2 linked regions of the Homo sapiens genome follow. The protein of the gene in region 2 purifies or fractionates together with the protein of the main gene of each other region. This does not show direct contact. Each region holds a gene or a part of one and is shown on either strand. Other genes may lie near its edges.

What was found.
Region 1: the proteins of PID1 (region 2) and RIPK4 purify together in Homo sapiens (affinity purification with mass spectrometry, with the first as the bait; one large-scale study listed by BioGRID). This does not show direct contact.

Annotation. Positions count from the first base shown.
Region 1 is NC_000021.9:41,756,963-41,760,782, forward strand, and holds part of RIPK4 (receptor-interacting serine/threonine-protein kinase 4), read right to left. Parts: intron 1-3,820.
Region 2 is NC_000002.12:229,152,749-229,156,568, forward strand, and holds part of PID1 (PTB-containing, cubilin and LRP1-interacting protein), read right to left. Parts: intron 3,217-3,820; coding exon 3,070-3,216; intron 1-3,069. UniProt on the Homo sapiens protein: Increases proliferation of preadipocytes without affecting adipocytic differentiation.

The sequences.
Region 1 (3,820 bases), on a different chromosome or scaffold from region 2:
ACGAATGCAGGGCTTTCCAGAGTCTCAGTCCTGAGGCTGCTGAAATGTACCTATGCATCACAGGGTTATCACAAGTGAGGAGGAGGGAAATTCTAATCGTTTTACAGGTAGCACTGATAACACATGTGGGGGGTCCACGTGTGTGAATAATTCCACAGGCAGCCATGAGCCAAGGCTTGGGGGTCTCAGAGACTGCAGGTGCAGGCCGATAATCCCTTCTCCTGGGAGGAGGGAAGAGAAGTTGACGTTCCACTCAAGGTTGTAACTAGGCAACTAGGCCGGGCACGGTGGCTCATGCCTGTAATCCCAGCACTTTGACAGGCCAAGGCGGATGGATCACCTGAGGTCAGGAGTTCGAGACCAGCCTGGCCAACATAGTGGAACCCCCGTCTCTACTAAAAATACAAAAATTAGCCGGGCATGGTGGCAGATGCTTATAATCCCAGCTACTCAGGAGGCTGAGGCAGGAAAATCACTTGAACCAGGGAGGCAGAGGTTGCAGTGAGCTGAAATCATGCCACTGCACTCCAGCCTGGGCAACAAAGTAAAACTCCATCTCAAAAAAAAAAAAAAAAAGTTGTAACTAGTTATGTTCAAGGAACCCAACTCACCTTCTCCGTTTAAGCCCAATACCTGAGTTGGCCCAGTTATTCCTGAATCCAACCTCACACTCAAACTAATGAAACAGCATAGGTCCAAAGCATGGGGTTGCCAACAGCCAAATCCAACCAGCCATTTTTTAAAATAAAAAATATAGGCCGGGTGTGATGGCTCATGCCTGTAATCCCAGCACTTTGGGAGGCCGAAACAGGCAGATCACAAGGTCAGGAGTTCGAGACCAGCCTGATCAACATGGTGAAACCCTGTCTCTACGAAAAATACAAAAATTAGCTGGGCGTGGTGGCGCCTGCCTGTAATCCCAGCTACTCAGGAGGCTGAAACAGGAGAATCACTTGAACCTGGGAGGCGGAGGTTACAGTGAGCCGAGATCGCGCCATTGCACTCCAGCCTGGGCGACACAGAGAGACTCCATAACAAAAAAAAAAAAAAAAAAAAAAAATATATATATATATATATATAGAGAGAGAGAGAGAGAGAGAGAGAGAGAGAGAGAAAATGTAGTCAAATAGACATAACATAGTATTTATTATTTTAGCCATTCACAGGTGTACAATTCCCTGACATTACCCACATTCACAATGTGGTACAACCATCACCACTATCTACACCCAAAACTTTTCCATCATCCTCAACAAAAATTCTGCACCCATTAACCAATAACTCCTTCCCTCATCCCCATCCTCAGTAACCTCTTTTCTACATTCTAGGCAAATTCATATAAGCATAAGCATATAAAATTTGCCCTTCTGTGTCTGGCTTATTTCATTAAGCATGTTTTCAGGGTCTATTCACACTGTAACATATATCAAAACTTCCTTTTCATGGCTGAATAATATTCTGCTGCACGAATGTACTGCGTTTTGTTCATCTGTTCGTGGGTGCAGGCCATTTCCACCTTTTGGCTCTCGTGGATAATGCTGCACATCTGCACACATTGGGGGACAAACGCCTGGAGTCGTGGCTTTCAATTCTTTTCGATACATACCTAGGAGCAGAATTGCTTGGTCACAGTCTATGTGTCACATTTTGAGAAACTGCCAAATGGTTGCCCACAGCGTGCCACCACCTTGTTTGTATAAATAAACTTTTACTGGAAGAAAGTCTCACTCATTCATTTAAACACTGGCTGTGGCTGCTTTTGCACTTCAAAGGGGAGAGGAGTCCTTGCAACAGAGGCCCTGCGGCCTGCAAAGCCTAAAATGTTGCCTCTCTAGGCCTTCGTGGAGAAAGCTGACCAACCTCTGGTCTAAGGTCACTTCCCTGGTGCAGCCTGTGTTTTCACAGACTAGAATCCCAGTGCAATGGTCTGTATTGGCATCATGGGTCAAAAGTCTCAGAATGCGTTCAGAGTAAGAGGCTGAATCCCACGGACGCACGCTGGCCATGCAGGATCGAGATCAGCAGCCCCAAACACAGACATGGTAGAAAGCACCCAGGAAGCTGGCTGGAATGCTGGTTCCCAGGCCTCACTCCTTGAGAATGCATTCCAGGTTGGGGCTGGAAAATCTGTTTTTTTGTTTGTTTTTCTTTTTTGAAACAGAGTCTCGCTCTGTTGCCCAGGCTGGAGTGCAGTGGCATGATCCTAGCTCACTGCAACCTCTACCTCCCAGGTTCAAGTGAGTCTCATGCCTCAGCCTCCAGGGTAGCTGGGATTACAGGTGTGCCACACTCAGCTAATTTTTTGTATTTTTAGTAAAGATGGGATTTTGCTGTTTGCCAGGGTGGTCTTGAACTCCTAGGCTCAAGTGATTTGCCTGCCTCAGCTCCCAAAGTGCTAGGATTACAGGCATGAGTCACCGTGCCCAGCCAATCTGCTTTCTAATAATATAATAAGCTCCCTAAAGGAAATGTTCAGAACCACACTAGGAGAGATCCGACCTCCTATAGCAGGAAACCCAGCAGCTCCATGTCCACACACAGGCCACGCAAGGCAGCTGGCTGGGGTGGCCTCCAGACAATTCCCCCAGAATCCAGCGTCCAGCCCAAGTCCCTGCCTATAACCCAGTGTCCGCTGCCACAGCAGGGGGCTCTTCTGGAGCTCGGACACAGGCCTGCTCCTCCCAGTGACAAACCCGGGAGCAGGTGCTGGGAAATCACTCAGTGGCTCCCATTTCCTCGCCTGCTGGTGAATCCAAAACAGTGCCAACAGAACGCATCCATTTCTTAATGATCTGACCGCCCCTGCGAGAGTTCAGCCCCTCCTAGGCTTCCCTTACCATAGTGAAAACACTTTCCCTGCAGGAAAGGCCAGCAGGAACCCCTGGATCCTACTGTTTAGCTCTTGCTGTGGAAATTCCCATACATCGGACAGGTACCAAAGGCTCGGAGATCTCAGCCTGTCTGCCCCCCAACAATGCAAGCCCTGCAGCTAGGGCTCTGCGTCTCAGGACATAGCCCACTGGTTCTCAATTAGAGGCAACTTCACCCCCCAAGAAACACTGGGCAATGTCTGGAGAGATTCTGGCTGTCACAACTAAAGGATGCTACTGAACATCCTACAATGCATAAGACAGCCCCAAGGCTAAGAATTACTCAGCCCCAAATGCCAACGGTGCCAAGTTGAATAACCCCGATGTAAATCAAGTGAGTGCATTTTCAGCCAATAAACTACTACTGTCCAGAATCACCACTTCAGTATTCCCAGCACTCACCTGACCTATATTTTAAGCAGTTCTGTGTATTGGCAAGTGCTCGCTTGAATCCACCATATGTCAGAACTAAGGACAAGAGGTCCCTTTCCCGCCTTCATGGTGTTTACGTGTACCCTCTAAGGAAGAAGATGGCGAACTACCCCCAAAAGAGAAGTGTGGTTGAAAAATCTAAGCCTCTTGAAAGGAAGGTCCAGGGAGCTATGGAGAATCAAGAGAGATCCAAAGTCAGAAGTCAGCATAGGAAAGGGCCCCTGAGAGAATCGGGAAGGCTGAGACCTGCGCAGAGTCCAGGGGCACCCGGGAGGCCAGCAGAGCGGAGCAGTCGCTGTGGATCCCCTTGGGCTTGGCAAAGCAGAGAGGGGAAGCCAGCAGAGCACACACACTCTGTTGGAAGAATCTGCAGGATGGGTCCATTGACTGCATGTGGAGGGGAGAAGCTTGCAGGACCTCTCTGGAGCTGCACCAGGGGTCACTAGGCAGCTCTCTACGGTGGACGCGGGAGCACCCCAGGAGGAGCAGCTGGGGGGTGTGGGGGGTGGGCAGGTCGA
Region 2 (3,820 bases):
GACCCACGGAGAATACAGATCAGCAGAAAATGGGAAATCTGAGATGAGCTAGGGTCTCAGTGGTGCTCGCCATAACCCATTTTCAACTCCCCCTTTCCTTTGCTTCCTCCTGCCTCTTTCCCTCCCCAAACCCAAAGTTATAAGAGCTATTAGGAAAAAAGAGTGACTACTGTGTGAAGGCGGAGGGTCCCGTGAGCTGGCCCTGCAGCTGGGCCCGGGCTACATTGTGTTCATTATTCCTGGGAGGCGTGAGCCCGAGAGAGCGTTCCTTCTGCAGCTGGCATCTTGTGAGCTAAGTTACTAGCAAGAATCAGAGAGGAAACACTGGACTTTGTTCTTGAAGATGATCAGAAAAAATTGGGGAAGATCTAAAAGGATTTTAAACCAACATTTCAAGGTTCAAATAGATTTTTTTAACAAAACTCAGAACACAAAAGTGACACTGTCTTTGAGAATTAAAGAATAAAACACCAGTACGTTTCCAGTCAAAACTTAAGTGTATTCTGTCAATAGTATACAATTTGGAGAATTACACGTTGCAGGTTTTCTTCCTTCAGATAGAATAATAACGCTGGAAAAGCCCTCAAGAGGTGTTGGCCCAGATTCCTGACTCCAGGGTCATGATTATCTATGCCTGGAATCGCCTCTTCAAGGTTTCTAGGGATGGAGAGTCCATAAACTTTATATAGCCCGGTGGAATGTGTTTTTCTCCTTGAATGCAGAAGTTCTTCCTGGTGTCCAAATGAAATCATTGTCGATTTCCTTTGTCTAGCTAGCCACACATACCGAGGCCAGCGGAACCCTTGCCCTCTTTGGCACACTCTTCTGATTTCCTACTATTTTTTTTTCAACGTCCTTTTAAAAGTAAAATAAATGAGTACAACCTAAGGCAGCACACAGAAAAAATTAGTCCATGAGACATGAACCCTATAATCCTTTTCAGAAAAATGATGGTTTTTATTCTAGCAAATATTTTTCTCTCTCTTACAAACACACACACATTTATTTAATATCTACATTAGATTGTTAGATTGCTAGGTATTTTTATTTTAAAACTGTGTAGTTTTTGCCCTTCCCGTTTTAAACATACTTTATAGGCTTTATCACACTTAATTCTCCTCCATATACTTGTCCCTACTGATTTCATCTTGCTTTGAGGCACCATCTTTCCTCATAGGAACAGAAATCAAAATAGCATTAATAAATCTCCTGAAGAATGTATAACGAATTTGATCTCATATCACTTTCAAATTTATAATTCCCTTGTATCATCAATTCACCAAAAGCATTAAATGTAATGTACCTAACGCCAGTTCTGTTGATTCACTCTCTCCTGTTAAGGCAGAGCCACTGACAATAGCTCTTGGGAAGTTGGAAGTTCTCCTTATCAGAATTACCATTTAAAATCACTTTAAAATGAGTCACATAGCTCACTTGCCTTATTCCACTGATGATTCCCCCATCATAATTAGAATGAAACCTAAACTTCTCGCCATGACCACAAGACTCTTTTCCCCCCACCCCCAGCGCCACCACTCATCACAACTTTCTCAAGTTCTCAGGTACACTGGCCCATTCCCTGTTGTTCCCAAACACACCAAGACCACCCACCTCATAGAATTAGTACGCCCTATTCTTTCGCCTGAAAGATTCTCCTGCAGGTTCTTCACAAATTGGATTTCTCACTAACCATGCTTGTTTACCTAGATTTTCTCCTCCCATGCCCCTCAGTGAGCAGTTAAATCCCACAAAGATGCTGGTGGGTTTTGCCCACACTGTGACACTATGCCGGTCAGACAGTGAGCACCCAATGAGTATGTGTGGAATGAATGAATGTGGATGAGGTTTTGTGCATACCACCATCACCCAAGATCGCTGTAGACGCCAACCTGACCACAGCTATGCGAGAACTGATTCCTTCACACTAAGCAATAAGGAAAAGGAGTATATCTCGAAAGCAATAAGGAAAGCATCAAGGAAAGGAGTATATCTACAAAGCTATGAAAGAAATCCATATACAAAAGCACTTTCCTTGTCTCTGATTTTATTTCCACTACTCAAAACAAATTTCTGATGATAAAACATCCATAAAACATATTTTCTTTGTGATCTCTAAATTGATTACTATATTCATCAACTCAAGCAAAAGAGAGTATCGTGTGAGAAAAAATCCAAAGCTTACCAAAATTATACATTTCATTTCTAGTTTTGTTTCCACGTTGGCATTAAAGTTTGCATAAATGAAAATGCTTTTTCTGGATTCTGAGGCATGAATATTAGTATAAATTTTGAGAGCTGAAGCAAAGCAAAAACTGCAAAATTATCCCTAAAGGATTTGGAGAGTATAACTGTTAGAAAACTTGATTTTTTATGTTTTTTTCATTCTTCAAGATATGTTTTATTCAGATTGAAAGAACAAAGGGAAGAATTATCATTAAGAACAAAACTTTTCTTGTGAACTCCAAAGTTCCACAGAGCTACAGAAATCACAGAGAGAATACAATTTTATTCATATATACTAAAACCTAGGTCTTTAGGCCGGGCTTGGTGGCTCACATCTGTAATCCCAGCACTTTGGGAGGCTGAGGTGGGCAGATCATGAGGTCAGGAGATCGAGACCATCCTAGCTAACATGGTGAAACCCCGTCTCTCCTAAAAAGACAAAAAATTAGCCGGGCATGGTGGCGGGTGCCTGTAGCCTGTAGTCCCAGCTACTCAGGAGGCTGAGGCAGGAGAATGATGTGAACCCAGGAGGCGGAGCTTGCAGTGAGCCGAGATCACACCACTGCACTCCAGCCTGGGCGACAGAGCGAGACTCCGTCTCAAAAAAAAACAAAAACAAAAAAACCCTAGGTCTTTAATGCGTGTCCAAAAGTGATAGTGTTAGGTCATTTAGAAAAATAAAACAGGATATGAATTCAGTCTACCATCACTCTGTGAATTTATTTTGTTGGTCATTTTATATTTTCATTCTTAAAAATGATTACCATTGTGAAACATAGGTCTCAAGCCCACACATCTTTGAGGCTATCTCACCAAGAGAACCCCTGCTGGCCACGTGCCCCATACCTTGCAGCCACTGTGAGTCCTTGTCTTCATCAGCGGTGTGGTCGTGCACAGCTCAATGGCCTCCGGCTCATGGAAGATGACCGCTGGGAGAGGTTCCTTTTTCAGTGTTAAGACATTCAATTTAGACTTCAGCATGGTCTGAAAGTGCTGAAAAGCAGAAAAATAAGCCACATGTAGTTTAATCACTTGGACTTTTATGTCCTGCAATTGTACATTAAACCCAGTAGCAACTTGTTTTATTGACTCTGTTCTATTAGGGGAGGCCAAGAGATATTTAGTAAAACAGAGGAGGGGGAACTGTGTCCTGTCAGGACGTCACTCAGATGAAACTGTGGAGACAGTCAATTCCTAAGCAGAGTCCACAGAAACATGACTTAGTGGTAAAGTCACCTCACCCAGGACATTATGTTCTGAGAAGCTCTTCCAACGTACTGTATACAGATGAAATTGTGGCAATGGAATCCATGCAGATTCAGCTACATAAGATGTTTGGAAGAGGATGTTATAGGGGTTATTTTGGGAAAAGTCTAGACACTGTAGAAGGAGAACAGATGAAAAAGTACACAAGACTTCTGTTCTCTGCCTTCCTGAGCTCTTTCATGCACTGGCTGTGGAACCTTAGGAAATTCACTACTTTAGGACAGACCATTTTTATCTGCTGTCTTAGGCCAGGATCCCAGGTAAATATCCATTTCATATGCAACATCCATTGGCTCTTGTTGTGAAAGATGCTCAGAATCCAACCACATTC